Homo sapiens: one gene and its partners. The protein of the gene in region 7 interacts with the protein of the main gene of each other region in a pairwise test. Each region holds a gene or a part of one and is shown on either strand. Other genes may lie near its edges.

The links.
Region 1: the proteins of ODC1 (region 7) and STX17 interact in a two-hybrid assay, tested with the Homo sapiens proteins (one large-scale study listed by BioGRID and IntAct).
Region 2: the proteins of ODC1 (region 7) and HEMGN interact in a two-hybrid assay, tested with the Homo sapiens proteins (one large-scale study listed by BioGRID and IntAct).
Region 3: the proteins of ODC1 (region 7) and BAAT interact in a two-hybrid assay, tested with the Homo sapiens proteins (one large-scale study listed by BioGRID and IntAct).
Region 4: the proteins of ODC1 (region 7) and TMOD1 interact in a two-hybrid assay, tested with the Homo sapiens proteins (one large-scale study listed by BioGRID and IntAct).
Region 5: the proteins of ODC1 (region 7) and TSTD2 interact in a two-hybrid assay, tested with the Homo sapiens proteins (one large-scale study listed by BioGRID and IntAct).
Region 6: the proteins of ODC1 (region 7) and TDRD7 interact in a two-hybrid assay, tested with the Homo sapiens proteins (one large-scale study listed by BioGRID and IntAct).

Annotation. Positions count from the first base shown.
Region 1 is NC_000009.12:99,909,301-99,913,240, reverse strand, and holds part of STX17 (syntaxin-17), read right to left. Parts: intron 1,086-3,940; exon of another isoform or gene 1-1,085. UniProt on the Homo sapiens protein: SNAREs, soluble N-ethylmaleimide-sensitive factor-attachment protein receptors, are essential proteins for fusion of cellular membranes.
Region 2 is NC_000009.12:97,927,769-97,931,708, forward strand, and holds part of HEMGN (hemogen), read right to left. Parts: intron 3,454-3,940; coding exon 2,267-3,453; intron 1-2,266. UniProt on the Homo sapiens protein: Regulates the proliferation and differentiation of hematopoietic cells. Overexpression block the TPA-induced megakaryocytic differentiation in the K562 cell model. May also prevent cell apoptosis through the activation of the nuclear factor-kappa B (NF-kB).
Region 3 is NC_000009.12:101,371,507-101,375,446, forward strand, and holds part of BAAT (bile acid-CoA:amino acid N-acyltransferase), read right to left. Parts: intron 1-3,940. UniProt on the Homo sapiens protein: Catalyzes the amidation of bile acids (BAs) with the amino acids taurine and glycine. More than 95% of the BAs are N-acyl amidates with glycine and taurine.
Region 4 is NC_000009.12:97,499,992-97,504,667, reverse strand, and holds the start of TMOD1 (tropomodulin-1), read right to left. Parts: upstream 3,003-4,676; 5' UTR 2,865-3,002; intron 1-2,864. UniProt on the Homo sapiens protein: Blocks the elongation and depolymerization of the actin filaments at the pointed end. The Tmod/TM complex contributes to the formation of the short actin protofilament, which in turn defines the geometry of the membrane skeleton.
Region 5 is NC_000009.12:97,623,181-97,627,120, reverse strand, and holds part of TSTD2 (thiosulfate sulfurtransferase/rhodanese-like domain-containing protein 2), read left to right. Parts: intron 1-1,123; coding exon 1,124-1,440; intron 1,441-3,940.
Region 6 is NC_000009.12:97,418,347-97,422,286, reverse strand, and holds part of TDRD7 (tudor domain-containing protein 7), read right to left. Parts: intron 1-3,940. UniProt on the Homo sapiens protein: Component of specific cytoplasmic RNA granules involved in post-transcriptional regulation of specific genes: probably acts by binding to specific mRNAs and regulating their translation.
Region 7 is NC_000002.12:10,445,353-10,449,821, forward strand, and holds the start of ODC1 (ornithine decarboxylase), read right to left. Parts: upstream 2,976-4,469; 5' UTR 2,769-2,975; intron 2,661-2,768; exon of another isoform or gene 2,122-2,660; intron 1,498-2,121; exon of another isoform or gene 1,362-1,497; intron 1-1,361. UniProt on the Homo sapiens protein: Catalyzes the first and rate-limiting step of polyamine biosynthesis that converts ornithine into putrescine, which is the precursor for the polyamines, spermidine and spermine.

The DNA of each region.
Region 1 (3,940 bases), on a different chromosome or scaffold from region 7:
AATTAAAATGTAAGACCTCAAACTGAAAAAGCACATCAGCCTCAAGTAGCATACATTAAAAAGAAACCAAATTTGCCTAAATACATGGAAGGGAAATTGCAAAACATTAAAGAACAAGAATCATTAAAAAAATGAGACATAAAAGACTGACAAAGCAATAATATATTGCTTTTAAAAGCAAGATATTAAAAGACAGAAATACCTTCAAAGTGCTGAGAGAGTTGGTATATTCCCAGGTAAATTATCATTTAAAATGAAAGCAAAATAATCATTTTCAGACATACAAGGACTAAGAGAGTTTATTACCAAGCCCCTCATTAAAAGTACTTAAAGGAATATTTCAACAATAAAGAAAATAAACCCAAAGGAGTGGAATAGCAAGGAGCAATGAATAGAATAAACTGTTAACGGATAGAATAAATGGGTGGATGAAAGAACAAAGAAAATAAAACATTTATTTTGAATAGTGTGATGAAGTATAATAAAAATGTTTCCATGTAAATAATTTTCTATAATTACGTAGATGCTTCACAATTTTACAAATTGGCTATTATTGGCTATTTAGGTTGTTTCTAATTTTCCACTATTATAAACTACAGTGTAATTACCCTGCTTACACATAAATCCATACTGCTGCCTATAATTATTTCTTTAAAACAATCAACAAAGACACAACCTGTATAAAGGGAGAAAATATTTGCCAACTAGTCATCCAACAAGGGACTAATATCTAGAATGTATGAGAAACTCAAACAACTCAACAGCAAAGAAACAAATAGTTCCATTAAAAAGTGGGCAAAGAATCTGAATAGACATTTCTCAAAAGAAGACATACAAATGACCAAAAGGTATTTTTTTTAATGCTCAACATCATTAATCATCAGGGAAATGCAAATAAAAACCACAATGAGATACCATCTCACCCCAGTTACAATAGCTATCACCAAACGGATAAAAAATAACAAATGCTGGTGAGGATGTAGCAAAAGAGGCCTCTTTTTTTTTTTTTCTTTTTAGATAGATTTTCGCTCTTGTCACCCAGGCTGGAGTGCAGTGGCACGAGCTCAGCTTACTGCAACCTCTGCCTCCCGGGTTCAAGCAGTTCTCCTGCCTCAGCCTCCTGAGTAGCTGGGATTACAGGCACATGCCACCACGCCCAGCTAATTTTTTGTTTTTAGTAGAGACGGGATTTTGCCATGTTGGCCAAGCTGGTCTCGAACTCCTGACCTCAGGTGATCCACCTGCCTCGGCCTCCCAAAGTGCCGGGATTACAGGCGTGAGCCACGACGCCTGGCGAGAAAGAGGACTCTTATACACTGTTGGTGGGAATGTAAATTAGTACAGCCATTATGAAAAACAGTATGGGCTGGGTACGCTGGCTCATAGCTGTAATTCCAGCACTTTGGAAGGCTGAAGCAGGAGGATCACTTGAGGCCAAGAGTTTGAGGGCAGCCTGGGCAACATAGCAAGATCCTTCTTCTCTGAAAAATTTAAAAATTAGCTGGGTGTGGTGGTGGGTGCCTGTAGTCCCAGTGACACCAAGGTGGGAAGATCCCTTGAGCCCTAAAGTGTGAGCCTGCAAGAAACAGTGTTCTTACTACTACACTACAGCCTAGGCAACACAGTGAGATCCTGTCTCAAAAAAAGAAAGAAAAACTGTACAGAGGCTTCTCAAAAAATTAAAAATAAAACTACCATATGATCCAGCAATCCCACTACTGGGTATTTATCCAAAGGAAAAAAAATCAGTATATCAAAGAGATACCTACAGCCCCATGTTTATTGCAGCAGCATTCACAATAGCCAAGATATGGAATCAACCTAAGTGTCTGTCAATGGATGACTGGATAAAGAAAATGTGGTGTATATACACAATGAAATACCGTTCAGCCATTAAAAAAAAGAATGGGTCAGGCGCGATGGCTCATGCCTATAATCCCAGCACTTTGGGAGGTGGAGGCGGGCCGATCAGGTCAGGAGATCGAGACCATCCTGGCTAACATGGTGAAACCCCGTCTCTACTAAAAAATACAAAAAATTAGCCAGGCGTGGTGGCATGCACCTGTATTCCCAGCTGCTCCGGAGGCTGAGGCAGGAGAATCGCTTGAACCCAGGAGGCGGAGGTTGCGGTGAACCCAGATCTCACCACTGCACTCCAGCTTGGGCAACAGAGCGAGACTCCGTCTAGGGAGAAAAAAAAAAAAAAGAATGAAATCCTGTCATTTACAACAACATGGATGGAACATCTAGCCTGTACTCCCAGCTACTCAGGAAGCCGAGGTAGGAGGATCACTTGAGCCCAGAAATTAGAAGCCAGCCTGGGCAATATAATGAGACCTCCATTTCTAAATAAAAAGGGGGAAAAAAGTTGATCTCCTGGAGGTAGAGAGTAGAGTGATGGGAAGGGGCAGGAGGGGTGAAGAGAAGTTGATTAATGGGTACAAACATACAGTTAGATAGAAGGAATACATTATTCATGTTTAATAACACAGTGAGGTAGCTATAGTTAACAATAATTTATTGCATATTTCAAAATAGCTAGAAGATCTGAAGTGCTCCTAACACAAAGAAATAATAAATGTTTGACATGATATATATCCCAAATACCCTGATTTGATCATTACACATTGTATGTATGTATCAAAACATCACATGTATCCTATAAATATGTAAAATTATTGTGTATTAATTGAAAAAAGTAACATAAAAATAAAAAATAAATATCTAGAAATAGAATTATTAGGTAGACAGATTTTTCAAGGTTTTTAAAACATATATATAGCCATATCCCACAAAAGGTTATGCCTATTATGTTCCTACCAGAAACATAACACAATGTCCATTTATCCATATTCCAAGCAATATACTTAGTATTATCATTCTTAGACATGTCATTGGTGAAAAAAATGATGTCTCATTATTGCTTTACTTTGCATTCCTTAAATTACTAACAGGGTGGATTTATCAGCCATTTGCATTTCTTTTTTTTTTTTCTTTTTTTTTGTTTTGAGACGGAGTCTCACTCTTTTGCCCAGGCTGGAGTGAAGTGGTGCGATCTCAGCTCACTGCAACCTCCGCCCCTTAGGTTCAAGTGACTCTCCTGCCTCAGCCTCCCAAGTAGCTGGGATTACAGGCACGTGCCACCACGCCCAGCTAATTTTTGTATTTTTAGTAGAGACGGGGTTTCACCATGTTGGCCAGGCTGGTCTCGAACTCCCGACCTCAGGTGATCCACCTGCCTCGGCCTCCCAAAGTGCTAGGATTACAAGTGTGAGGCACCATGCCCAGCTGCATTTCTTCTTTTTTTAATTTTTAATTTTTGTGGGTATATATTAGTAGTAGGTATATATTTATGGGATATTTGAGTTATTTTGATACAGGCATACAATGTGTAATAATCACATTAGGGTAAATGAGGTATCCATCACCTCAAGCATTTATTCTTTGTGTTGCAAACAATCCAGTTATACTCTTTTAGTTATTTTTAAATATACAATTGAATTATTATAGTCACCCTGTTCGGCTATCAAGTACTATATTTTATTCATCCTCTATCACTATTTTTTTGTACTCATTGCATTTCTTCTTTCATGAATTGCCTGTTCATGTCATATGCATCTGTTTTTACTACAGGGGATGTCTTTCTCTTATTAACTCATAAAAGGCTATTACATGTTAAATGTATCAATTATTTGTCTAACATTAACATTTCCCAATCTATCACACTGCCTCTTTTCTTTTCTTCTATACCACAAAGAGATTATCTTTATATCTACCATCATTCCTATCAAAATGTTTTTTGAACACACCTGTTGTTCAATAGATGCTGCCTGAACTAAAATATTTCTTCACACGTCCCTTCTATACAATTGCTAATCCTATCACTCTAGTCAAATAGCACAATATGCATAGCCATGATAATGGAGCTTCAATTAGTCTA
Region 2 (3,940 bases), on a different chromosome or scaffold from region 7:
AAAGACAACTGGAAAAATATTTGCAACATATACATAGTAAAAACTATTATTTAAAGAGGTTTTTTAATCGGAAAAAAGAAATAAAAAATGTTGAATGGGATAAGGATTCAAACAGGCAATTCTTAAAAAATTATATTTATAATAATCCTGAAAAGATGTCTAGTAACATTAATTATAAAAGGGGGTGATTAAGACCATTAGGTGTGTTTTATTTTTTAACCTATCACTTCTCAGCCTTTTGGCTAAGATCAAGTGTATTTTTTTTTTTTTTTTTTTGAGCCGGAGTCTCGCTCTGTCGCCCAGGCTGGAGTGCAGTGGCGCGATCTCTGCTCACTGCAAGCTCCGCCTCCCGGGTTCACGCCATTCTCCTGCTTCAGCCTCCCGAGTAGCTGGGACTACAGGCGCCCGCCACCGCGCCCGGCTAATTTTTTGTAATTTTAGTAGAGACGGGGTTTCATCGTGTTAGCCAGAATGGTCTCGATCTCCTGACCTCGTGATCCGCCCACCTCGGCCTCCCAACGTGCTGGGATTACAGGCGTGAGCCACCGCGCCCGGCCGATCAAGTGTATTTTTTAACCTAGCAGACAGACAAGGATTTTTAAAATGTCATAATGTACAGTGCTGACAAGGGTGTGGGGAAAAGGCACCTGTCTCGTGTGAATTGCTACCACATTTCTGGAGGCTAGTCTGACTGACTGTATATTCAAACTTTAAATTTGGGTACCGTTTGGCCCAACAATTTGATTTCTAGGGGTTGATTCAAAGGAAATAATCAGACAAACTTCAGCCTCCAGTGCCTCCATTTCCTTATATTTAGAATGGGAGTATTATTTATCCAGTAGAGCTTTTAACATTGAATAAAATAAACCACATAAAATATTTAATATGGTGTCTGGCACATAGAAAAGTACCAGATAAATGTTAACTAAATAAATGTTATTCCCAATGATGTTCATTGAACATTGTTGTAATAGTAAAACTTGGCAGTAACCTAAGTGTTCATCCTTATAGAGACTGGTTGAATATACATATAGCACAGTACTATGCAGTTGTTACAAAAGACATCATAAAGATGGCTGCAATACATATTGTAAATGAAAACAAAAACAAGTTACAGGATAGGATGGGTACTGTCTCATTTGTTGAAACAAAACAACCTTAACATTGGGAACTGAAGATAGAAGATGGTATTATAGGGGACTTTTACTTTACTTGATATTCACTTACATATTGCTTTATTATAATGAACACTTACTACTTTTATAATCAGGAAAAATAGATATTCCCATTTATTTGGTCAAACAAAGCCAAAAATAAAATAAGCGTTAATTAATTGACCATATCGACCTTGCTGGGTTTAGAATGAAGCAGTTAGGAATCAGGACGCTGTGTTGGTTAGAGCTGCTTCTCCAGCAGGGTACTCCTGTCAGTGCACGTACTGCTTCACATGCCTGCTTTTGCTGCAATGTATTTCTTTAAAGTAGTTCTTCAAAACTGGTATTACTTGGAAACCAACTAGCACCATGTTTTTGTTGCACTCATCTTTTAGGATAAAGAGCAAGTAAACTACTAAAGGGATTTCTTTAGAAATCAGTTTCCTGGGGATAACTATGGTCTGATAGACTCAGTCCATTTCTTATACTGTCTACAGTATTGTACAAAGAGAGCTGAAGTTCTCAGTTATGTCTCTGAGGCAAGTGAAATTAAAGAAAGGTTGCATTATTTTCAAATTCCTATACTTAGGAAAAAGTTTTTCAGGAACAAATCTTGAAATAGAAAGGGTTTTTGGTAAACCTGATAAATCCTACAAGAATGAATTCCCTAGTAACAGGATTATATTTTACAGCTTTTATCTCCCTCAGTACTTCGTACTATGAATTTACCTGCTTTCCATTTATCAGGCAAATTAAATTTCCTAGAAAAACTTCATTCATCAAGCTTTCTTGTTAATGTAGACTTAATTTTTAAAAATATTTTGCAATAATTCATCCTATATTGGGTTCATTTCACTGACTATAGCATCTCATAATGGATGGATAGTATGAATAAGTACTTAATGTACATGCTTGCATTTTCAATTTTTTTAACTCTTTGAAATATGCCAAGACAGACGTTGGTTGCATGAAAATATTGTTCACTTAAAACTAGTCAATGAAATTCACAGTATCCATTGAAATAACAGGGAATACCCAGGATTGTCAGAGAAAGTTGTAAATCACTACTCTGGGGGAGATGTACCTACCTTGGTGCTATAAACAGCCCTTACCTTGAGGAAAAGTATAAGCATCTTTAGCATCTTCCTGGTGTGCTTTAGGATCCTGGCCTTGGGGCCCACCTGTTTCTTGGTGTGGTTCTGGAAAGCATTCTTTAGGCACATCCTTATTTTTATATGTCTCAGTAGAGAGGTCTTCAGGCCCCGGTGTTTCTTGGTATATTTCAGGTGAATATTCTTCAAGCTGGGATGTTTCTTGGTATATTTCAGGTGAATATTCTTCAAGCCCAGGTATTTCTTGATACGTTTCAGGTGAATATTTTTCAGACCCAGGAGTTTCTTGGTTTATTTCAATTGAATAGTCTTCAGAATGAGGTGTTTCTTGGATTGTTTTATGAGAGGGGGCTTTAGGCACAATAATTTCGTTACATGTTTTATGAGGAAGGTATTTAGGTTCAGCTGATTCTTGGTGTGTTTTTGTAGAAAGGTCTTTAGGCTCAGCTATTTCTTGTATTTTAGGAAAAAGGCCTTCTGTCTCAGCTATTCCTTGATCTGTTTCATTGTATTCCTCTGGTTCTGCTGGATTTTGGTCTGTGTCAAGAATATAGCCTTTAGGCACATCTGGTTTTGGATATGCTTGAAGAGAGCATCCTGCCAGATCAGCTGTGTCTTCAGATGTTGGACAAGGAAGGATTTTGGGTACAGCAGCTTCTTGGCACATTTTAGGAGCCAGATCTTCTCGTTTAGCCATATCTTGGTACATTTTGAAAGGATGGTCTTGAATTACAGATATTACTTGGCATGTGTTAGGAGAGTTGTCTTCAGGTTCCTTCATGTCTTGGCATATTTTGGAAGAATTGTCTTGAAGTACAGATATTTCTTGGTACATTTTAGGAGAGAGGTCTTCAGGTTCAGACACATGTTGGCATGTTTCAGAAGAATGGTTTTGTACTGCTATTTCTTGGTACTCAGAAAAATTCTCCTGATATATGTTACTTTCTTGACATATTTCAGAAAAGTGTTCCTCAGGCACAACTTTTTGCGGGGAGGCTACTGAAGGAAATACTTTGGTTATGCTCCCAGGTGGCTCAGTTTTTTTCTCTATAGGTGCCAGTGCTTTCTCCACTATTTCCTTTTCTATCTGTGGCTGAGGCTCCACCTTCAATTCTGTGTTTTGTTGTCTCTTTCTGCCTCTTCGATTTCCTTTTCCTGTTCTCTGCTGCTTGCGTTTTTTCTGTTCTCTGCAGAAAGAACAGAATTAGTGTCAGCAGTGGTACTACAGAATTCAAATAAATGCTTGTAATAACAGTGCCAGGTCCCCCACTGCCTCATTGCACAAGTATCATGAACTAGTCACTTAATCTCTCTGGGCCTCAATCTCCTTGTTTGTAAAATGAAGGAGCAGCTCTAGATGTTCTCAATTCTTAGGAGAGGGAATGTTTCTCCAGGACTTCGTGGCATTGATACCATGCTTACCAGGAGCCTTCTTGGTGAGGGTAGTGCATGCGCGTATGCGTGCGTGCGTGTGTTATAGCATATTCTTAAAGTTTTGTTATGGAAAATAAATAATTCTCATTACAAATTAATAGAGTGGCATTCTGGTTTATACACTAGTCTCTTTGCATTTAGTCTTTGTGTGTTACTTCCCTACCCCTGAGTAAACTCATACAAATCGAGTTTCTAGACCTGGCACAGCTCCTCGTCTGTGCAGCCTGCAGGTGGATGCTG
Region 3 (3,940 bases), on a different chromosome or scaffold from region 7:
AAGGGTTGATGAAAGGTGAATTGAATCAGCAGTCAGACCACTTAGGAGTCAGTTCTAACCCTCTAGTTCTTTAGAAACTTCCTGATATAGTCTTCTAGTACAAGACACCTGAGAGCTTTCAATGAATTTCCAGAAGACAGTAAGCAAGCTGACAAATTTTATAACAATAATGAACCACTGTTAAAGAAGCAGCAGCCAAAATATGCATGAATGGTATCAATACATCTAGGAAGATAACACAATCTGTTATACAGAACCTTTAAAAGAAATCAGGTACAATGGAGGATAAAAATAAGATGTGGGTTTGAAAATATGGTTATTTATTGAACGTTTATATATATATGAGACATTTGACTTCACGCTAATCCCTTCCTCAAGTCCTGGAAACAGAATGCCTTGCATCCAAGAGTTTACCTGCAACAGAACATAAAAAAATAGAGGGATCATGGAATAGGAATACTATACAGCCATGAAAAAATGAAACCATGTCCTTTGCAGCAACATGGATGCAGCTAAAGGCCATTTCCCTAAGTGAACTAATGAAGAAACAGATAACCAAATACCTCATGTTCTCAATTATAAGTGGGAGCTAAACATTGGGTACACACGGACATTGGGAACAGAAGACACTGGGGACTGCAAGAGGACAGAGAGAGGGATGGGGGCAAGGGCTGAAAAACTACCTATTGGGTACTTAATATCAGGGTGACAGGTTCACCTCAGCATCATCACACAATATACCTATGTAACAATCCTGCACATATACCCCCGATCCTAAAATGAAAGTTAAAAAAAAAAAAAACCCAGAAGGATCTTCTCAAAAGAATGAGAATAAAATCTTTGGAAAGAACAAAAGGGGTGGTGTGTGTATTGCTCTTTAGAGAAAAAACATCCATAGCTTTGTACTTAGGATTTACCCAAAGGAAAGCAAAACTAGAAGCTGACAGGCCATTCAGGTACATAAAAGTCTTGCTGAGCTTTTTGTAACCTTTTAAAAATTAAGAAATGCCCATCTCCTTTTGATTAGTGTGAAGAAAGCCACAAGAGTTACCACTGTTCTCTCTCTAACAAACACAACTATCTGCATAAACTACAAAATTAGTTTTGGGGTTGTTGGTTTTTTTTTTTTTTTTGGTCTTTATTTTTGTTTTGTTTGTAACTCATTAGATTACTGAGAATGCAAAGAATCTACATGAATTGAACTCCAGCAAGTGACAAGCTGCTCCATAGGAAACAGAAAGTTTTCTCTCCTACATGCTGATTTACAATTATGATAAAGCAGCAAAAAATAAACCCAACAGAAAAAAATAAGGAGAAATCAACAGAAAATTTAATGTACTTTTAATGGATATGTGTGGATTGGTTTGATAAACTAGAATTCCAAGAAACTGTAGCCACAGAGTAAGTCTTTCTCTATCTGCCAACTTTCCGTAGAGCTTCACCATGTGCTCAGACCGAGATCAGGGGTGCAAGCTGAAAGAAATCTGAGGCATTGCACACCTTCATGTAAAATAAGGCAGCTGCCTTTCAATGAATGGGGTCAGAGGAGCAGAGTAGAGAGAGAATAGGGAATAGGAAATGAAAACACCCTTATATCATATTTCACAAACTGTTCTAAAGACAGCAAATTCTTGCTCAGCTGCTTTTCCTTGCTGTAAAATAAGCTACCAGTAATTCTAAACCAATCTAGAATGCATTGTTTCTGGACCAAATATAAGCATGCATACTTACAAAAATGCTTGGCAATGAGTACTTGGCCTATTTGTCCCCATAGCCATAAAAAATAATGTGATCATGTCTTTTGCAGGAACAGGGATGAGTATCAAATAGCTGAGGAAAGACTAGAATTTATTTTTAAATTCTGTGACTGACTTCCAAAAATCCCTTATCACTAGAAGTACTGGCAAAATATCAGATATTAAAGGATCAGATTTAATTCTTTGATATAAGCATGAAATTTTTACTGATAGCTTTCAGGGCTAGCATAAACCATTAAGTAACCCAAGAAGCATGAGAGACAAGAATGAAGTCTAGTATAAAATGCAAGGCAGGCTGAACGATAACGATGTTTTGTTTTATAGGAAAAGTCAACACTAATAATATACTCCAGAGAAACTATCACCTACTTGGATGTTTTTAACATTATAGCAAACTAAAACGTCAAGCTTCAAAATGACTAAACCTGTAACTTATAGCTGGAACATTTTGCTGAATTTGTCATTATACTATAATTTATAGTGTTCAACATCTGAGGACTCAGCACTATCTTGGCAAACAGACTAACTCCTCCCACCCATCAAAGGTCTCGGGGGTAGGGGCGAAGCCCTTTTCTCCCCATCAATACTGAGCTTTATACCATACAAGAAATCAGTGAAAGGTAAACAACAAGGTACAATGTAATTCTATTATATATTTTGCTTCTGTTATTTGTGACATATACAAGTATATTTTTGGTTTTGGAGCTATAAATTAATTTAGCAAGCTTCAAAGCTCATAAATTTTAACTTTTCAAATGAGAAGTAACTTTTCAAATAAAGTTTAGGACTTTACGCCTATTAATTTTACTATCAAAATGTCTGAAGGACTCCATTTAAATAATTATAATTCTTCTAAATATCATTTGAAGAATTATTTGTGGACACTAGACTCAAGACTACACTAAATCCAAACAGTACACATGACCTAAGTTTTGAAGTTTCTCATCTCAGTTACCTGTCTTTCAACTTGCTACTTGCTCTCATGCTTTCATTCACTAAATACAAACTGTCAGATTCTTAAACTGGACCCTCTCCTCCAAGGCCCTATCAGATTAACTTTGTAAATATGCATCTTCAGTCTTTAAGCACCAACATTTTAAGCTGAGACTAATGCCTAGAGCCACATTTCTAAGTTCAGCACTAAAAATTCATAATTCTGGGGTATTAGCCTAAAATGTACCTGAAAAGTGAACCAAGTTTCAGATATTTTCATAAATCTTGAAACTCCAAACTAGAATTCCAATATTTTTAAAAATATCTCTCATGAAGACAAGGCAACTGTATTTACTGCATCAACACTATTAAAGGATAACTGATAGCAACAAAGGGACCTACCCATATTTCAGAAGGCCAAGATTTGTCATGATAAAATCTAAAAAAATGGGCAAAGGCAATGAGATCCTAAATACCACTATCATAAAAATAATCAGTTTCTATATTTCTATCTTCCTTCTGCTATAAGAGGAACCAAAGAAGTCAAATAGATAATTGTTCTGTCTGAGCCAACAATGAAATCTTTAAGAACAGGTATATTCCCTGTTATTGTCTCAGGGCATTATATCATACCTGCTTTATTTAAAAAAAAAAACCTTCAGAAATAAAAATGAGTTAGCCTTGTGAATGTTTTGAAGCATAGTTTCTTGAATTTCTGTGATGAACTCTTCAAGCAATTCAATTTTTCAGCGTCATCACTCAAAATTCCCTTTGATATGGGATCTATCCCATGATTACTGATATGGTTTGGCTGTGTTCCCAACCAAATCTTAACCTTGAATTGTAATAATCCCCACATGTTAAGGGCAGGGCCAGGTGGAAATAAATGAATCACGGGAGTTGTTCCCCCCCATACTGTTCTCATGGTAGTGAATAAGTCTCACAAGAACTGATGGTTTTATACATGGGAGTTCCCTGCACAAGCTCTTTTGCCTGACACCATGTAAGACATGACTTTGCTTCTCCTTTGTCTTCTGCTATGATTGTGAGGCCTCTCCAGCCATGTGAAACTTTGAGTCCATTAAACCTCTTTCCTTTATAAATTACCTACTCTCAGGTATGTCTTTATTAGCAGTGTGTGAACAGACTAATACAGTTACAAAGCAGCTTCCTCCTTTGTTGTTTGTCAGAGTGGCTCTTTGTTCCTTCAGGATCCTAAACTTCTCATTCAAAGTCATCTCTGTCTGTTT
Region 4 (4,676 bases), on a different chromosome or scaffold from region 7:
ACTGGTCTGCCAGAGACATAGGGGTCTGAGCCAGGATCTGCTTCGTTTTACCTTTTTTTGCTCATTCCAGGGGATGAAGGCCACCTGCAGAGTCTGTGACATTCTGCAAGTCACTAAGGAAGGTCCCCAATCCTCATTATGGGCACACCTTTTAGATTCCCCTTTAACTCTCTCCCCTCTCCTGGGTTCTTCTCACTACTTGCCATACTCTTTATCCTAGAATGCCTGCCTCCCTTCTGTTCCTTGTCCTCAGTTCCTGCTACCTTCCCTCTCCCTTCCTTTCTCATCCAAGCTTTTAGAAAGAGTTGCTGGCTCTGTTGAGAGCCTTCTTCAGCCTACAGCCTGAAGAAGTGGAGAACTTCTTCAGCTCCTGTTAGCTCCTGCCTTTCCCCCTCACCACAACGAATACTATCATTGCAATATCAGGCTCTGGGCTGAGGGCTTGCCCTGAATCATCTCACTTAATTCTCACAAGCAGCCCCTATGAAATGGGGCTATTGTTGTCTCCATTGTATGAGGAGAAAACGAGGCTCAGACAGGCTGGGTCACTGGCAGATCTCATTTTTTGAGCCTGCTGCAATACCCTGGTCTAAGTCACTCATGATCCCTGCCAATCCTGATGGTCTTTTCCCAGTCCTCATCCCCCTACTCCTGTCTCTCCACAGCAAGTGACACTGCCCACCTCTGTCCTCCCTTGGCACCTGGGAAAGCCACTGTCTCTCACTCCTTCCCCAGCTCCTCCTTACAGGATGGGTCATGCTAGAAAGGCTTCCAAGGAAGACTCTAAGCCCTCTCCACTCCAGGTCCACTAGAGACCACCTTGTCTGCCCCCTCATTGCTCAAGGTTCCTCTGAGTGGGTGGCAGAGTTGGGGCTGGAGCCAGATATCCTAACCTCCAGGCCAGTCCACCTCCCATTGCTCAGAGCTGCCACACCTACTTTGTGTTTTCTGTTTTTGCTGAGCTGCAAGAAAACGCCCTACCCTGAAGGAGGGAGAAGGTGTGAGACCCTGATAAGGTGGGGCGGAGGCTATTTTTAGAGGACACTGGCTTTCATCTTAGGCTGGGAGAAACTCAAGGGTCAATGACTCTCTAAAACACGGGTTTGTAAGACTAGCTCATTAAAGATAATACACCAAAGTGACAGTATTCTTGTTTTCACTCTGCCTGTTGGTTGTGTGGCTCTAACTGATGGAAACTTTATTATCTGACTCCATTTCCCGTTAATTCTTTTTTCTGTAAGTCTTTGAGATGGCTTTAGAAAAAAACACATAACAGAAAGTAAAGTAGAAGCAAAAAGGAAACTTCAGGATGAGGGCGCTATTGTCCAGACAAGGTAAAGTCCAGAACAGCAGCAGATTCAAGAAGAGGGGGCATTGATCGGGTGCTCCCAGAGCTCCCGGACCTGCCTGAGCAGTGGGAAGGGTGCGGAAAGAGATGGGAAAGGCTGGGAGACTGCAGAACTTCTGGCGTGACCGGCCCTGTGTGACCTTGAGCAGGGGGCTCTGCGGCCCTGCACAGAGGACAAAATGGCAGTCACCTCTGGAAGAAAGATGGGGTGGGGGCCCTAGGGGTTCTCACGCTGAGGGCCCAGCACCTGGGTTCAGGGTCTGGTTCTGCGATTCAGACACGGAGGAGCTTGGGCCAGGTCGTCTCCGAGAGTCTGAGGGCATAGGGCGAGGGCTGGAGACAGGGTCTGTAATAGTAGCGGTGGGTGAAGGGTGTAGGAGGGGGCGGCGCTGCGCAGGTTGGAGGACGCATCATAGGCCCGATATAGACCGGGAAACTGTGGCCAGGGAGCGGCTGTACTGGAACCACTGCCCCTGCCCAGCTCATCGCATCTGAAGCTGCGTGGCTCACAGGCTGCTTTGCCGGCTACGGAGCAGAGAGATGCCCATAGGCACCCCAAAAGTGCACTTCCTAGGGTTGTACGGCTTAGGATATCCGACGGCCTTAGTGAGTCCCAGGATACGATCGAGTCTGGGGCAGTCAGTCTCCGATTTCTGCAGCGTCTCCGCATGTGCGCGGCTGGGACCCCAGCGTCCCAGGCCCGGAGAGGGTGAACAGGTGTGGGGAGCGCAGGCGGCCAAGAGCGCGCCCTGCAGCTCTCAGGGCTTGGGCTCCCAGCTCCATCGCGGCTACCAAACCTCGCCCCTACAAATGGGAGACTGAGATCCAGAAACAAGAGGGGGATTGCCAAGGCCATGCCGAGAGCCGGCGACAACCTGGGGCTCCCGCCTCCAAGCTCTTTCCAGCTCCACTTGGCCGCGTAGCGCGTGTCGTGGTGCTTTAAACCTTGTCTCTCCCAGTTTGGGAAACTTCACCTGCCCCAAACACTCTCAGCGCGAACCTGGGATCCACGTCCAGTCGAGCCTTTACTCCCCCACTCCCACCCCCAGACTCTTGCAGGCGGAGAAGAGGCCGCGCCCCCGAGCCCAGCTCCGGCTGGCACCTGTACCCAGCTGAGCACCCCGCGGGCTCAGAGCCCCGCCGCGCTGGAGTCCTGCGGGTGGCGGGGGCGCCCCTCCGCCAGGACCCCAGCCCGGGGCGCCGTCTCCTCCAGAACCCCGGGTCCTTCTCGCGTTCACAGACGCGGTGCGGAGGTCCAGAGCGGAGGGCGCCCTGGCCAGGGCTGCGCGCGCGGGGAGGCGGGGACGGGAGCGCTGGGCTCGGAACCCCGAGACCCGGGCTCCCTAGCCCCAGAGGCAACCCGAGGCGGCAGCTATTTATAGAGGGAGCCACGCTCAGTCCCTCTTGGCGGCGGCGGCGACAGCTGAATATTTTGCCCAGATATGGCTGAGGCCCCGGAGCGGGGGCAGGGAGCCCCGCGAGCGCGAGGGGGACCCCAGGCGGGGTGGGGGCTTACCCGGACGCAGAGCTGTGGGGCCGGCGCGGACGCGGGCTGCGGAACAGGCGCGGGCGGCGGGCAGATGGACGCGGGCGGAGGCCGCGGTGCTCCGGCGGGCAGCGGGCGGGCGAGCGCAGCGCGGGGCTGGACGAGCTCCCGGGCGGCCGCGGGCGGGCGGGAGCTGTGGGCTCGGGGGTGGGAGCCAGGGGCGGGCCCGGCTCGGCTGTCACCGCGCCCCGCCCCGCCCGCCGCCGGCTCCCTCCTTCCCCCCCCCTCCACTCGGGGGCGCCCGGGCGCAGCGCACTTCCCCGTCGGGACGCGGCCCTGGGCCGGGAGCGCAGGGGAGTCGGGCTGCAGCCGAGCGAGCGCGGGCCCCTGCCTGGGTCTCCTCCGCTTCCCCGCTGGTACCAGGAAGAGTTTGAGCGACGGTAGAGTTATGTGGGAAAAGGTGGGCAGATTTGCATTCCTGTGGGGTTTAGAATTTAAGATTTTGAGAATCTGAAGTCCCCAGAAGTGATGGACCAAAGCCAGCTAAGCAGCTGCTGCACCTTCACCTCTGATTGAAGCGCCGCTCCGTCCGTTTCCCAGCAGCGCGGCCAGGTGGGCTCTGAGCCGCAAGCTTTAACCGCGATCGTTTTGTCTACACGTAGTTCCAACACGCAATCGAATACATTCTCTCTACACTGAGAGCGAGTGGAGTGTCTAAAATACTGATTTTAAATGACCACAACAAAAAGACCCAAGTTCTTAAAAGGCTTTTTTTTTTTTTTTTTTTTTTCAGAACAAACCACTTTAGGTGGTTTATTCCAAATACAATTTTAAGTGTTTTAATAAACAAATGTCTCATGCAAAGGAATTTATATAGAAATAGGAAAACGTCTTATTTTGGATTATTATGGGAAAGCTTTTGGTAGGGTAGACCTTAATAAAATCAGCTCTTAATCCTGATGTATAGATTATTAATGAGAAACACTCATTAACCAAATTTTGTTTCTCAAGAAAATGAATTTCTCTAAAGTCCTCACAATGAGAACGCTCTTTTCAAGGGGTATATGCCATACATTTAAAAATAAGCAGTGATCTAATATTTCAGATTATTTTAAAACATTTTTGTTGTGAATCGAACATATAAGAACATACAACATAAGTTATGTTGTATGTGTAAACAAAATAAATGTGCAGCTTCATGACTTTTTACAACGTGAACACCTGTGCAACCAGTCACTCAGAGAACATTGCCTACAGCCCAGAAGCCAACCTGTCCCTCCTGGGTCCCAACTCCCTTCTAAAGATGATCACTTTCTTGACCCTTACGGTGATCATGTCCTTGTTTTTTTTCTTCCCTCTGTAGTATGTCTTCATTTGTTCAAATCTGTTGTTAATCTGTGGTTTTATGCAGCTGTAGTTTTTCACTGTATGAATATGCCACAGTTTAAAAAAAAATCCATTTGACTATTAATGGGCATTTAGGTTGTTTCCAGGTTTTAGCTATTACAAATAGTGCTGCTGCGAACATTCCTTGCCAGAATCCTCCTGTCCACGCGCACAGCCTGCTGTTGGAAGTGCTGGGTGATAGAGAAAGCCTAACCTCAACTTCGGCAGAGATAAGCCTGAACTCTTCCAAAGTTATAGTACCATTGTACAGTGCAGTTTCCCATCTTCAACAACACTTGAAGTTACAAAAATTGAAACACTTTAGAAATTCTGATATGTGAGTAATGGTATCTCATTGAGGTTCAAACTTGCATTTCCCTATATCCTAATGTGTTGAGTATCACTTCATATTTATTGGCCAGTTGGATTTGTTTTGTGAATTGTTCAGATTTATTG
Region 5 (3,940 bases), on a different chromosome or scaffold from region 7:
CCAAATGACAAGTGAAGAAAAAAGTTGGTAATTATGATCAACAAAAGATCACTAAAAACACGTATCAGTAAGAAGATAAATGCTATAATGGAAAAATAGGCAACAGATTTGAACAGGCAAGCCAGAAATAAACAAATAGATTAAGCAGGAAAAAGTATTCAGCATTACTACTAATCAAAAATATTAAAAAAAAAAATAGGGTAGCATTTCTTTTGCCTTTTATTTGGACCAACATTAAAAATATTGATGATAAAAAATACTGATAGAACTCAGTGAGGCTATGGATAAAATGGCACCCACATGCTTTTCTGGTTAGAGTATAAATTGGTACATTTTTCCTGGAAGTCACTATTACAGATTAAAATTTCATGTTCTTTGACCCCTCAATTTTTATTTTAGATATTCTAAGTAGGTGGTTAAAGATATAGAAAGATAGATGCATGGAATGCTCATTCAACATGGCTTTTAATTGCAAATATTAGAAACAATCTAAATGTTCATCAGTTGGTAACTGGTTAAGAGAATTTTCTGTTTGATTGTTTTACAATAAGCATAAGTAATTTTTATAAAAACAGTAATATTATTTTCCAAGAAGGAAGATATTTTGGTACGTTTCTTCCTGGTCTTTTTCAATGTACTTTTTAATGTGGTTAAGATTACATTGCATAAGCAATTTTATCCAATTTTTTTCACTTAATATTATATCATAAAATATTTTTCCATATAACTTAAAACTGGCTGCTTAATATTCCATGGTAAGCATACTTCATAATTTACTTTCCATATTCCTTTCGAAAATAACTAATAGTGTTATTTGTGATATTTTAGGCCAAACTGTATTATGTATTTTCCAGTGTGACTTAGTCTTATATCCTGAGAATAAAATTATGATGCTGAGAGTTATTTAACCTCCTCAATATAAAGCCTAGTTTTAATTTCTCTAATAGTCTCTTCTAAAGCTTACTAATAAGAGAAGTGTTACTTCTCAGAGAATTGTATAACATAATGGAACATAAAACTAGAAGCCCCTGTGGAAAGATAATCTAAAGAATCTTAGTGAGACTTCTATTAGCCATAAACCTAAGGTTATTTAACAGTGTTAGCATTTGAAATCTAATTGCAGGCCTTTGCCCTTTTTGTCAAAACCAAAGAAGTTCCAACAAAAAGGAGTTTTGAATGTAAAGAAAAATTGTGGAAATGCTGTCGGCAGCTATTCACAGACCAAACCAGCATCCATAGACATGTGGCAACACAACATGCTGATGAAATTTATCACCAGACAGCTTCTATTTTAAAGCAACTGGCTGTGACATTGAGCACCTCAAAGAGTCTTTCGTCTGCAGATGAAAAGAACCCTTTAAAAGAGTGCCTTCCACATAGCCATGACGTGTCTGCTTGGCTCCCTGATATAAGCTGCTTTAACCCTGATGAGCTGATAAGGTAAGATTTTCATTCTGTATTTTGGTTTGATTTAAAGTATTTTTCCAACCACAATGAGATACTACAATTCACCCATTAAAATGGCTAAAGTGAGAAAGACCAACTGTGTCAAATGTGAAATGAGGATGTGGAACAACTGGAACACCCAGTCACTGTTGGTGGGAATGTAATATGGCACAACCACTTTGGAAAAGTGTTCGGCAATTTCTTAAACATGCATCGTTCCTGTGGCCCACTCCTGGGTATAATACCAACAGCAATAAAAACATATCCACAGAAAGCCTTGTACAAGAATGCTCATAGCAGTTTTATTCATAATAACAAAAAACTGGAAACAACTGCAAATATCCATCAACAGGAGAATGAATAAACTGGTATAGTCATGTAAGAATATTGCACGACAATAAAGTGCTATGAACTGCTAATATTCAAGAACGTATATGGGTGAATGAGAAAATCCTTATGCTGAGTGAAAATAGCCAGACAATACATATTTTCTGATTTCATGTACTTGAAGGCAAAACTAATATATGATGATAGAAAGGTTCTGGCAGAAAGTTTGGGAATACACAAGAGATTTTTTGAGGTATTGGAAATGTTCTGGTTTTGATAGTGGTGTGGATTACACAGGTATACTTGTGTCAAAAATGATCAAACTTTACACTTAAGATCTGTGTATTTCACTTGTAAACTGTGCCATGCTTTAAACATTTTTAAATAAATAGGGCAGGAAAAACTAAGCAAAAAAAAGGGGGGGTTTCTTTTAAGCTAGATATCATTATCTGTATGATTTCAAATATACGTATCCAGAAAAATGCATCATTTACTAGGTTTATTGGGGAATGTAGCATTGCACATAGGGAATTTTTAAGAAAGCAGGTAAATGTAGCTTACATTTTAAAGCATCTAAACTTTCTTTGATTTAACCTTTTTTTTTTTCTGGAGTCTTTCAAACTGCATTAGACTCTTCTTTAATTGCATAATTAAACAGAGTATAGTGAATGTGATTGAACTTTTTGTGAGTGCTTTAATGCCATCAGGATGAACTTAAGTAGGATGCCAAGGTATAAAAGTTTGTCTTTTTACTAAGACGGCTCAGACTTACTCTTCTGTTACCTCTCCTCCCTCTCTTCTAATTCTAGATCCAAACTCTCTGTATTATTGCTATGTACCAAATTCAGCTTACAGCAGCATAGTTGGTGTTACTAGCTCAGAGTCTCTCATGAACTTGCAGTCATCTCATTGCTTGACTGGGGCCAGTAAATCTGTTTCCAGGTTCACTCATGTGGTTGGTGGCAGGCTTGTTTTTTCAGTGGCTTTTAGTCAAAGGCCTCCATTCCTCTCTGTGGGGGTCTCTTCATAGGCTGCCTGAGTGCTCTCATGACATGGCATGTGATATGTGAGAGACAGAGACACTTCAAGACAGAAACCACAATCTTTTATGACCTAATCTCAGATTGCCATACCATCACTTTTTATTGATGCTATTGGTCACGTAGACTAACCTCAGTACAGTCTAGGAGAGAACTATGCAAGGGTCTAAATACCAGGAGGCAGGATCATCAGGGATCATCTTGGAGGCTGGGCACCATACCTCAGAGTTGTTACTTTTTAGTGTGTATTACCTAGCAGCACTGCCTGCACTTTACCTATTCTTTCAGGATCTTAACTACTTGCAACAGCTAGATCCTTAAGGCACAGAATTCTAGAGGCCTAAGTTAGGCCAATAACATGCATACTATATATAGCCAAAGACCATAGCCTGTGCAGCAGCATATACCCAGTCAGTTGACATTGTTTGTGAGGTTTTTTCTTTTTTTTTTTGAGACAGAGTCTCACTCTGTCACCCAGGCTAGAGTGCAGTGGTGTGATCTTGGCTCACTTCAACCTCTGCTTCCCAGGTTCAAGTGATTCTCCTGCCTCAGCCTCCCGAGTAGCTGGGATTACAGGCATGCACCACCATACCCAGCTAATTTGTATTTTTAGTAGAGACAGGGTTTCACCATGTTGGCCAGACTAGTCTTGAGCTCCTGACCTCAGGTGATCTGCTCACCTTGGCCTCCCAAGTGCTGGGATTACAGGTGTGAGCCACTGCATCCAGCCTGTTTGCAAGGTTTCTTGGAGACCATTCTACATATTCTTTAGGGAGGAGAGGTAAAGAAAGAAAATTATATTATTTTCAAAAACAAGTGGGAAGACACAGAGACATTAATGATTCCTCTACCCTATGTAATGTCAGAGCTTAAAAAAGGGTTTTGTATTAGTCTGTTTTCATGCTGATAAAGACATATCCAAGACTGGGCAATTTACAAAAGAAAGAGGTTTAATGGACTTAACAGTTCCGCATGGCAGGGGAGACCTGATGATCATGGTGGAAGGCAAGGAGGAGCAAGTCACATCTTACGTAGATGGCAGCAGGCAAAGAGAGAGAGCTTGTGCAGGGAAACTCCTGTTTTTAAAACCATCAGATCTTGTGAGACTTACTATCACAAGAACAACA
Region 6 (3,940 bases), on a different chromosome or scaffold from region 7:
GTTGGCTGGGATTACAGGCATGTGCCACCATGCCTGGCTAATTTTTTTGTATTTTTAGTAGAGACAGGGTTTTGCCATGTTGGCTAGGCTGGTCTCAAACTCCTGACCTCAAGTGATCCACCCACTTCAGCCTCCCAAAGTGCTGGGATTACAGGTGTGAGCCACCTCCGGCCTAGTAAACTGATTTTTAACAAAGATGCTAAGGAAATTCAATGAAGAAAGTTCAATGAACAGTGCTAGTAAAACTGGTCATTCATATGCAAATAATGAACTTCATATTATATATACAAAAAATTAACTCAAAATAAATAATTTAGGTCCTAAATGAAAAGGCTAATAGTATAAAACTTCTAAAAAATACACAGGAGTAAATCTTTGTGGCCTTGGGTTAGGCAAAGACTTTTGAGAACCATAGAAGAAAAAATTGGCTGGGCACGGTGGTTCACGTCTGTAATTTCAGCACTTTGGGAGACCAAGGCACATGGGTCACCTGAGCTCAGGAGTTCGAGACTCGCCTGGGCAACATAGTGAGACTCCGTCTTCACACACACACACACACACACACACACACACACACACACACACACAAAAGCTGGGCATAGTCGCACGTGCCTGTAGTCCCAGCTACCTGAGAGGCTGCAGTGAGCCGTCATGGTGCGACAGAGTGAGAACCTGTCTCAAAAAGAAAAAAAGAAGAAATTGACAAATTGGATCTCATCAAAATTTAAAATGTCTGCTCTTCCAAAAGCTGTTCAAAAATGAAAAGCCACAGATTGTGAGAAGATATTTTCATAACAGACGTGGTAAAGTTGGTAGTCATATATAAACAATACTCAAAACTCAATAATAAAACAAAGATCCCAATTTAAAATGTGCAAAACACCTGAATACATATGTCACTAAAGTAAAAATGAAGATGGCAAAAAAACACATGAAAAGATGCTCAACAGCATTAGTCATTAGGGAAATGCAAATTAAATTCACAATGAAGTATCACTACACATCTATTAGAGCAGCTTAATTTTTTAAAAAACTGACAATACGAAGTGCTGATGAGAAAGCAGAGCATTTAGAACTCTCATACATTTCTGGTGGGCATGCAAAATAGTACCTTGAAAAATAGTTTGACAATTTCTTTTTTTTTTTTTTTTTGAGACAGAGTCCAGCTCTGTGGCCCAGGCTGGAGTGCAGTAGCCCGATCTCGGCTCACTGCAACCTCTGCCACCCAGGTTCAAGCAATTCTCCTGTCTCAGCCTCCCGAGTTGCTGGGACTACAGGCACACACCACCTCGCCCAGCTAATTTTTTTGTATTTTTGGTAGATATGGGGTTTCACCATATTGGTCAGGCTGGCCTTGAACTCCTGACCTCAGGTGATCCACCCGCCCTGGCCTTCCAAAATGCTGGGATTACAGACATAAGCCACTGCCCCGGCCAGTTTGACAATTTCTTACAAAGTAAAGTATACACTTATATAACCCAGCAGTCCTCTCCTACATTATTGCCCAAGAGAAATGATGACATATGTCCACACAGAAACGTGTGTGTGTATATAACAGCATTATTTATAATTGCCCCCCAAACTGGAAACAATCAAAATGTCTATCAAAAGGTAAGTAGATAAACCAAACTAGTAGCGCCATACAGTGGAATACTATTCAGTAATAGAAAGGAACAATCTGTTGATACATAAAACATGCATGACTCTTATATTATGCTAAAGGAAAAAGCTGGACACAAAAGGCTACATACATGATTCTATTTATGTGAACATTCTGGAAAAGGCGAAACTACAGACACAGAAATTAGATCAGTGGTTGCCAAGGGCTGGGGGTAAGGGGAGGTGATTGGCTATAAAGAGGGATTTTTACTGCATGTACAGCATATCTTTAACCACCACACCCTCCCCCACCCGCCCCCCCCAAAAAAAAGTTCTTTTAAGCTATGCTTCTCTGTGGTCAGCCCTCTCTGGTTCATACACACACTGCCCTGGCTCCTGGCAACTACCAATCTGCTTTCTGTCACTATGGATTATTTTTGCCTAGTGCTTTGTGTTCCATCTATGTTACTGCATTTAACTCAGTTCATTCCTTTTTATTGATGAGTAGTATTCCACTGTATGGGTATACTACAATTTGTTTATCAATTCAAATGTTGATACACATTTGGGTTGCATCCAATTTTGAGATATTATAAATAAAGTTGCCTTGATCATTCATGTACAAGTATTTAGGTAGGCACATGTTTTTATTTCTCTTATGTAAATTCTGAGAAATGGCTTTTCTAAAAATCTAGTATCTATAATAATGCTGGGAGGCTATTATCCTCAACTTATAGATGTGAAAACCAAGGTTCAGATAAGTTAAATACTTAAGATATCGCGGGATGTAGATAAGCTAGGATTTCAATCCAGGTCTGTTTGATGCCAAAGGCCACACTTTTCCCATTATATCACCCTGTCTACTGGTACTGGGAAAAACACCCAGCAAACCCTGAAGAATTAAGAACAGGAGACAAGACAGGAAAGAAAGGGTAAGCAGAGTAAAAAAGAAAAAAACAGTGGTGTGAAATCCACAGCTGACTCCACTTAGTCACAGGGCTGGTGTGGATTCCAAGACAATGGAACAGCTGGAGATACTCAATAGAAATTCATGGCAGAGACAGAGAACTGCAGAGTCTGCACACCTCCACTACCTCTGAAGTCCACACTCTGAATGAATGCCAGGGAGCAGGAAAGAGGACAGCTTTGGGACCTATACTTCACGGTTGCCAGATGTCAATGCTGAAGTATGAATTTTGGGTCCTGAATAGTAAACTGATGACACGGAAAATAGTTTAACAATGGTTCATGACTCATGAGTCAAAGATCACTGAACTACTATACAGTTATTTCCACAAGTAGTAAAAGCAACAGTGGAGACTGGCCAAGTTTTAATTTGCAAGAGGACATACTAAAGCATCACTTGCTTACTCCTCAGTGCCAATCCACCCTGACTATCCATTTCTGATCTCCACCTTCCCCATCTATGTGCTCTTCTTCCCTTCAAAACCCAATCCCTCCCATCAGTTCATCTAGAGCTCTTCTGAGTGAAACTGGGCTTTGCATCTTTGTATATCCGTATGCCTAAGTGGGCCTTGGCTATCAGCTACATACGCATTACATATAGATATAATGTCAGGTGGTTAGCACACATCCAGGGAAAATATCCATCTGGGTGTGACCAGTGTAAACGACTCAAATTAGACTGTTCAATATATCTGACTCCTCCCTGGCCAGACTACTTTATATTCCCCTGCCAGAGTTTCAGTAAGAAGGCCTTACCCTTTGCCTTAAGAATAGAGTTTCCATGGTATTCTCCTTCCCTTCATTTTGGAAAGAGCATCTGCTCCACTGCCACCTCCCCTCTGTGGTCTACTTTTCTCAGCTACATTAGGAGTGGACAGCAACCATTAATTTATGGGGAAAAAATGTCGGATAAATGCATTTTACTAATGGGTGTCCTGTTACTAAAACCTAACAGAACACTGTGATTCAGGTTTGAAAGGACAGGTCCAGCCCTGTCTTAGAGTCTAATCAGAGGCTTGTTCTACAGGTTGCCCTCTGCGAAAGCCTTCCACTCCTTCCACCCTTGGGAGAACCATTTTAGACCACTGCCCCTGAAATGTCCCTTCTATCTTCCTTATTTCTGCTCTGAAACAGCTGCAAGCAGGGATCTCCCAAAAAGGGCACTTCACAATTTTTTTTTTTAAGGAGCGGCATTCAGGTAGAGTCTTCCTCTTGTCCCCACCCATGACCTGTTTAACGGCCAGAGCAGAGTGAGGTACGAAGCTTTGCCTAATGCTTGCTTCTCTAGTCCCACCCTCTTTAAATGTGTCTTCTCCTTTATATAGCAGATGTCTCGTGACCTCCATCCTAATTGTTCTATCCTTTGCCCCGAGAC
Region 7 (4,469 bases):
CATGCCCCGGATATGAACCACTCACTGGCCTGGTCATCCTAATTATTACTAGGCATAAGGTACATGATTCCATAAACCTTGGCAGTATAAGGACACAACAAAAAATACCAGGTTTTTCCAAGGCAGCACACTAAGCATTTCAAATATTTGTACCAAAAAAATCTAGCATGCAAGTTTCAGAAGCTTATCTGCACTTAGCTCACTGATATGGAAAAAAGTCTTATAATGGTCTGATTTATTTCAGAGCAGTTTCAGTTCCTTAGAAACTTAAAATAGCATTATAGACTTTTTTATTTTTTTTGAGACAGAGTCTCACGCTGTCACCCAGGCTGGAGTGCAGCGGTGCAATCTTGGCTCACTGCAACCTCTGCCTCCCGGGTTCAAGCGATTCTCCTGCCTCAGCCTCCCCAGCAGCTGGGATTACAGGCGCCTGCCACCATGCCCGGCTAATTTTTGTGTTTTTAGTAGAGACAGGATTTCACCACGTTGTCCAGGTGGGTCTCAAACTCCTGACCCCAGGTGATCCACCCGCCTCGGTCTTCCAAAGTGCTGGGATTACATTATAGCCTTTATACACAGCCATACAAACATTTCCTACTTCCACTAAGTCTTAGAATGATTTTTACTGACCAACAGGCATCATGGAAATGTCTGGAGCATTTGAGATTTTACGAGTTAATTTTCATGTATTAGCTGGGTATATACTTCTTAAAAACTGTAATCTTCAAGTCAACTTATCACATTGTATTACAGTTGCTGTTACCTGATCAGAATTCAGTATTTTTTTTTTTTTTTTTTGAGACAGAGTTTTACTCTTGTTGCCCAGGCTGGAGTGCAATGGCATGATCTCGGCTCACCTCAACCTCCGCCTCCTGGGTTCAAGCGATTCTCCTGCCTCAGTCTCCCGAGTAGCTGGGATTACCGGCATGTGCCACCACACCCGGGGCCTGGCTAATTTTATATTTTTAGTGGAGATGGCGTTTCTCCATGTTAGTCAGGCTGGTCTCCAACTCCCGACCTCAGGTGATCCGCCTGCCTCAGCCTCCCAAAGTGTTGGGATTACAGGCGTGAGCCACCACGCCCGGCTAGAACTCAGTATTCTTAAACCAGCGTTGCCTACCAAGTTTAGCAATTCCGGGAATGCCAACTGTCCTTACAGTCACTCTCGTATTTGCTTAGCTATGAGAATAATTTGGGGCTAACTTCACCAAAAAAGAAAAACAAGCAAGAACATCACTCTAGTAACAATAAAAGCCACTGTATTTTGCTTTCATCAAATGTGGCACCTTGTGAACCAGCTTTCTTAAAATTATTTATTTTAACCTTTAAAAATTTCTGCCAGGTAGAGCTTTCTTCTTTTCCACTGTGCAACCCACTTCAGTGCCAGCAGCCTACGGGCACAGAGGCCAGGCAATGGTTCGGGGACACAGTTTGCTCTGGCATGGGGTACTATGACAGGCCCAGGGTGACGGGCCTGTCATAAATCCAAACCCATGCATAGAATTTGCTTTAAAGCTCTATCTATTGTGACTGCTTGGCATTGTCAACCTCCGAAGTTGCCTAAATCACCCCTCGGAGAAGGGAAGAGAGTAACAACGCTAGCAAAACCATTTTTGTTACAGACATGGTTATATATTTTTGTTTATATGAAGAATATTTACAATTTAATAATAAATAGGCTCATGCAGTCTCGGACTGGGTCATTTGAGGCCTTATTAAATATTTTTAAGGCAATGTTCAGGCCTAAACTTGGAAAGTTTTGATTTCTTTTTAATACGCCAATACTTTTTTGCTTTTCTGTATCTTTTAAGGCGTTACTTAAGTAACTTACTTGAATATATTTTACTGAAGAACACCTTTCGGTCTTTCTGTAACAGCTAAGTTATTTAAAATGGTCAATCAATTAGCACAAGAGGATAATGTTAGAAGAGATAGGGGCTAATTCAAACAAACTTTGAAAAAAATTTCACAAATCAATTAAAGTCTGCCCAATTTTATGTTTAAACAAAGTCAGCCAACACATTCTTTGTCCTCCCCAGACATTCCTGAGAGGTTCTGCCTTCTACACTTTCACCAATTATTTCGACTTCGCAAACAGCACAATCAGCCTTTTCTGCAAACCTTAGGGCTGTCTCCCCTGTGTATGTCCGTTCATCTAAGCCAAGCTTTTCCGAAATCACCGAGTCATTCACAGTCCTTAAATAAACACCTCTAAGTCATGGCCGAGCATCTAATATCACAGCTACTACAGCAAGACTATCTTAGCTCTACCCACTCTCGCGGGTTTCCAAATTGGTGTCATCTGCTCTGTAGACACAGCGAAAATAAAAACTGGAAGGAAACTGAAGGCGCCAAGGCCGGGGCCCGCTCGTCTGTACCAAGGCGAGCCCGGGCTCTGCGCCCCTGCACCTGCTGCGCGGCCGCCAGGGCCTCCCCAACGGCTCCCCGGCCAGCGCGCGGCCGCCGAAGGGTTGGGAAAGAGGCCGGCGCGGGGCCGCAGGGTCTCCGGGTGGGTCTCCCCTAGGCCCCTCCAGCCCCGAGCTGTGAAGACGGGGGCAGAACGAGGCGCCCGGATCACCCTTATCCAGCCGCGGGAGAACCCCGGGCCGGGAGGAAGCGGCGCCTCAAGGTCGTGGCCCGCTCGGCGACCACGTGTCTCCGCAGGCCGGCGAGGCGCGCCGCACACGTGCCCGGGGCCCGGGGCCCGCAGCCCGCCCCGGCTCCCGCCCTCGCTCCCTCCCTTCCTCCGCGGCCGGGGAGTCCCTCACCTCAGAGCGCCCAGGCGCCGCAGGCCAGCCCCATGGGGAAGCGCAGACGCCGGAGCCTGAGTCGCAGCCGCAGGAGCGCTCGGCCGCCCCCGCCGCGCCCGTCAGCGCCTGGCTCCCGCCCGCCGGAGACGCCGGCCCGAGGTGGCGCCGGAGCTGCTGGCAGAGGGGCGGCGGGCGGCGGCGGCGGCGGCTACAGGAGGGACTGACAAAGCCCCACGGCACGCCGCTCCCTACTTATAGCACCGGCGGGTCGCCATGGAGACGCACCAGCTCAAACCAGCCACGATCGGTTCCGGCCGGGACACCGCCGGGGGAGGGGCGGGGGCCCGGCGGTGGCCAACCCGGGCCCGCGCGGAGCTGGTGGGGCGCCGGCGGGCCGACGTCAGCCGAGCCGAGCACCGCCTGCCCCACGCGTGGCCCCCGCCCCCGGCTTCGCGCCCCGCCCTCCCCGCCCTGCGGCCGCCTCTCCCCGCCCTCCCCGCCCTGCGGCCGCCTCGCCCCGCCCCGCCCTGCGGCGGTCTCGCCCGCCTGGAACTGGTCCGCGCACGCGCACGACGCCGCAGGCCCCGGCCCCGGCCCGCGGCAGCTGAACGGCAGAGCCTGTAGCTGCACAGCTGTGCTTCCACCTGGCGTTCAGTACCTCGTGCCCGAGAGCGGAAAAGGGAAATCGCGAGCGGAGGACCGATGTGCTGGCCACGTGGGCCCCGCCGGGCCGACTCCGGACCCTGCTGCCGCCCATTCCTCCGGTGCAAGGGACCTGGAAGTGATCCCGGTGCCGCTCTGCTCCCACCAGCTAGGGAGCAGAGGCGCGGGAGGGAAGGGGCGTCCCGGGGGTCGCCAGCACGCTGCGGGCAGGGCTGGCAGCCGCCTCCACGCCCCCGCGCTGGAAGCCTCGTCTTTGTAACATCGAGGTATCCTGTAACTAGATGGGTCCTGGCCTGCGGAGGTAGTTTCCCCTGTGAAGCCAGGGACTCAGCCAGGAGCGTGAGGGGACCCGGATCCTGAGTCTCCAAGCCGCCCACTACCCTCTGCTTTACCGGATGGAACTCATCAGTAACTAGGTATCTTTAAGGGCGGCTCCCTGGCGCGCTCTGAGAGTTACGGAAGTCCCAAAATGCTTTGACCGAAAACGTCTAAACAGTGAATACATAAAGCAAAAAGCCGCGTGGGAAATTCGAGTCCCTAGGAGCGCCCAGGGGACGCCTCTGGAGGTGGACTGCCACTCACTCCAGGCCACGCTGGAATGCCCGCACCAGGGAGGCACTGCACTTGAATTGGGGACACTTTTTTTTTTTTTTTTCATTTTTACCTTTCATTCCCTTTTGGACAATCCAGACAGGATATGTCTCTCCCTAGGGTGGGGATTTCGACTCCTTAGGGTGGGAGTACAGCCGATGAAGAGTTAAGGAGAGGAGTGGGTAGATCTAGATCTAGCCTTGGGTGGGTGGGGGCGGGGTTGGAGGAGCTCAGAGCACTGGCCCAGCGCTGCCCCCAACTTGCTGTGTGCTCTTGGACAAGTTATCTCCCTTCTCTGGGCTTCAGATAACCCAAGGATCCTTACATATCTTTATAGCTACAAAGCCCTGTGAGGTTTTGAAAAACTTCCTTGGTACCCAAAACCAGGTCTGAGGCACAGTCAGTGAATACCTGTTTAATGAATGCATGCATAAATGAATGAATGGATGATCCAGCTCTTCCTGG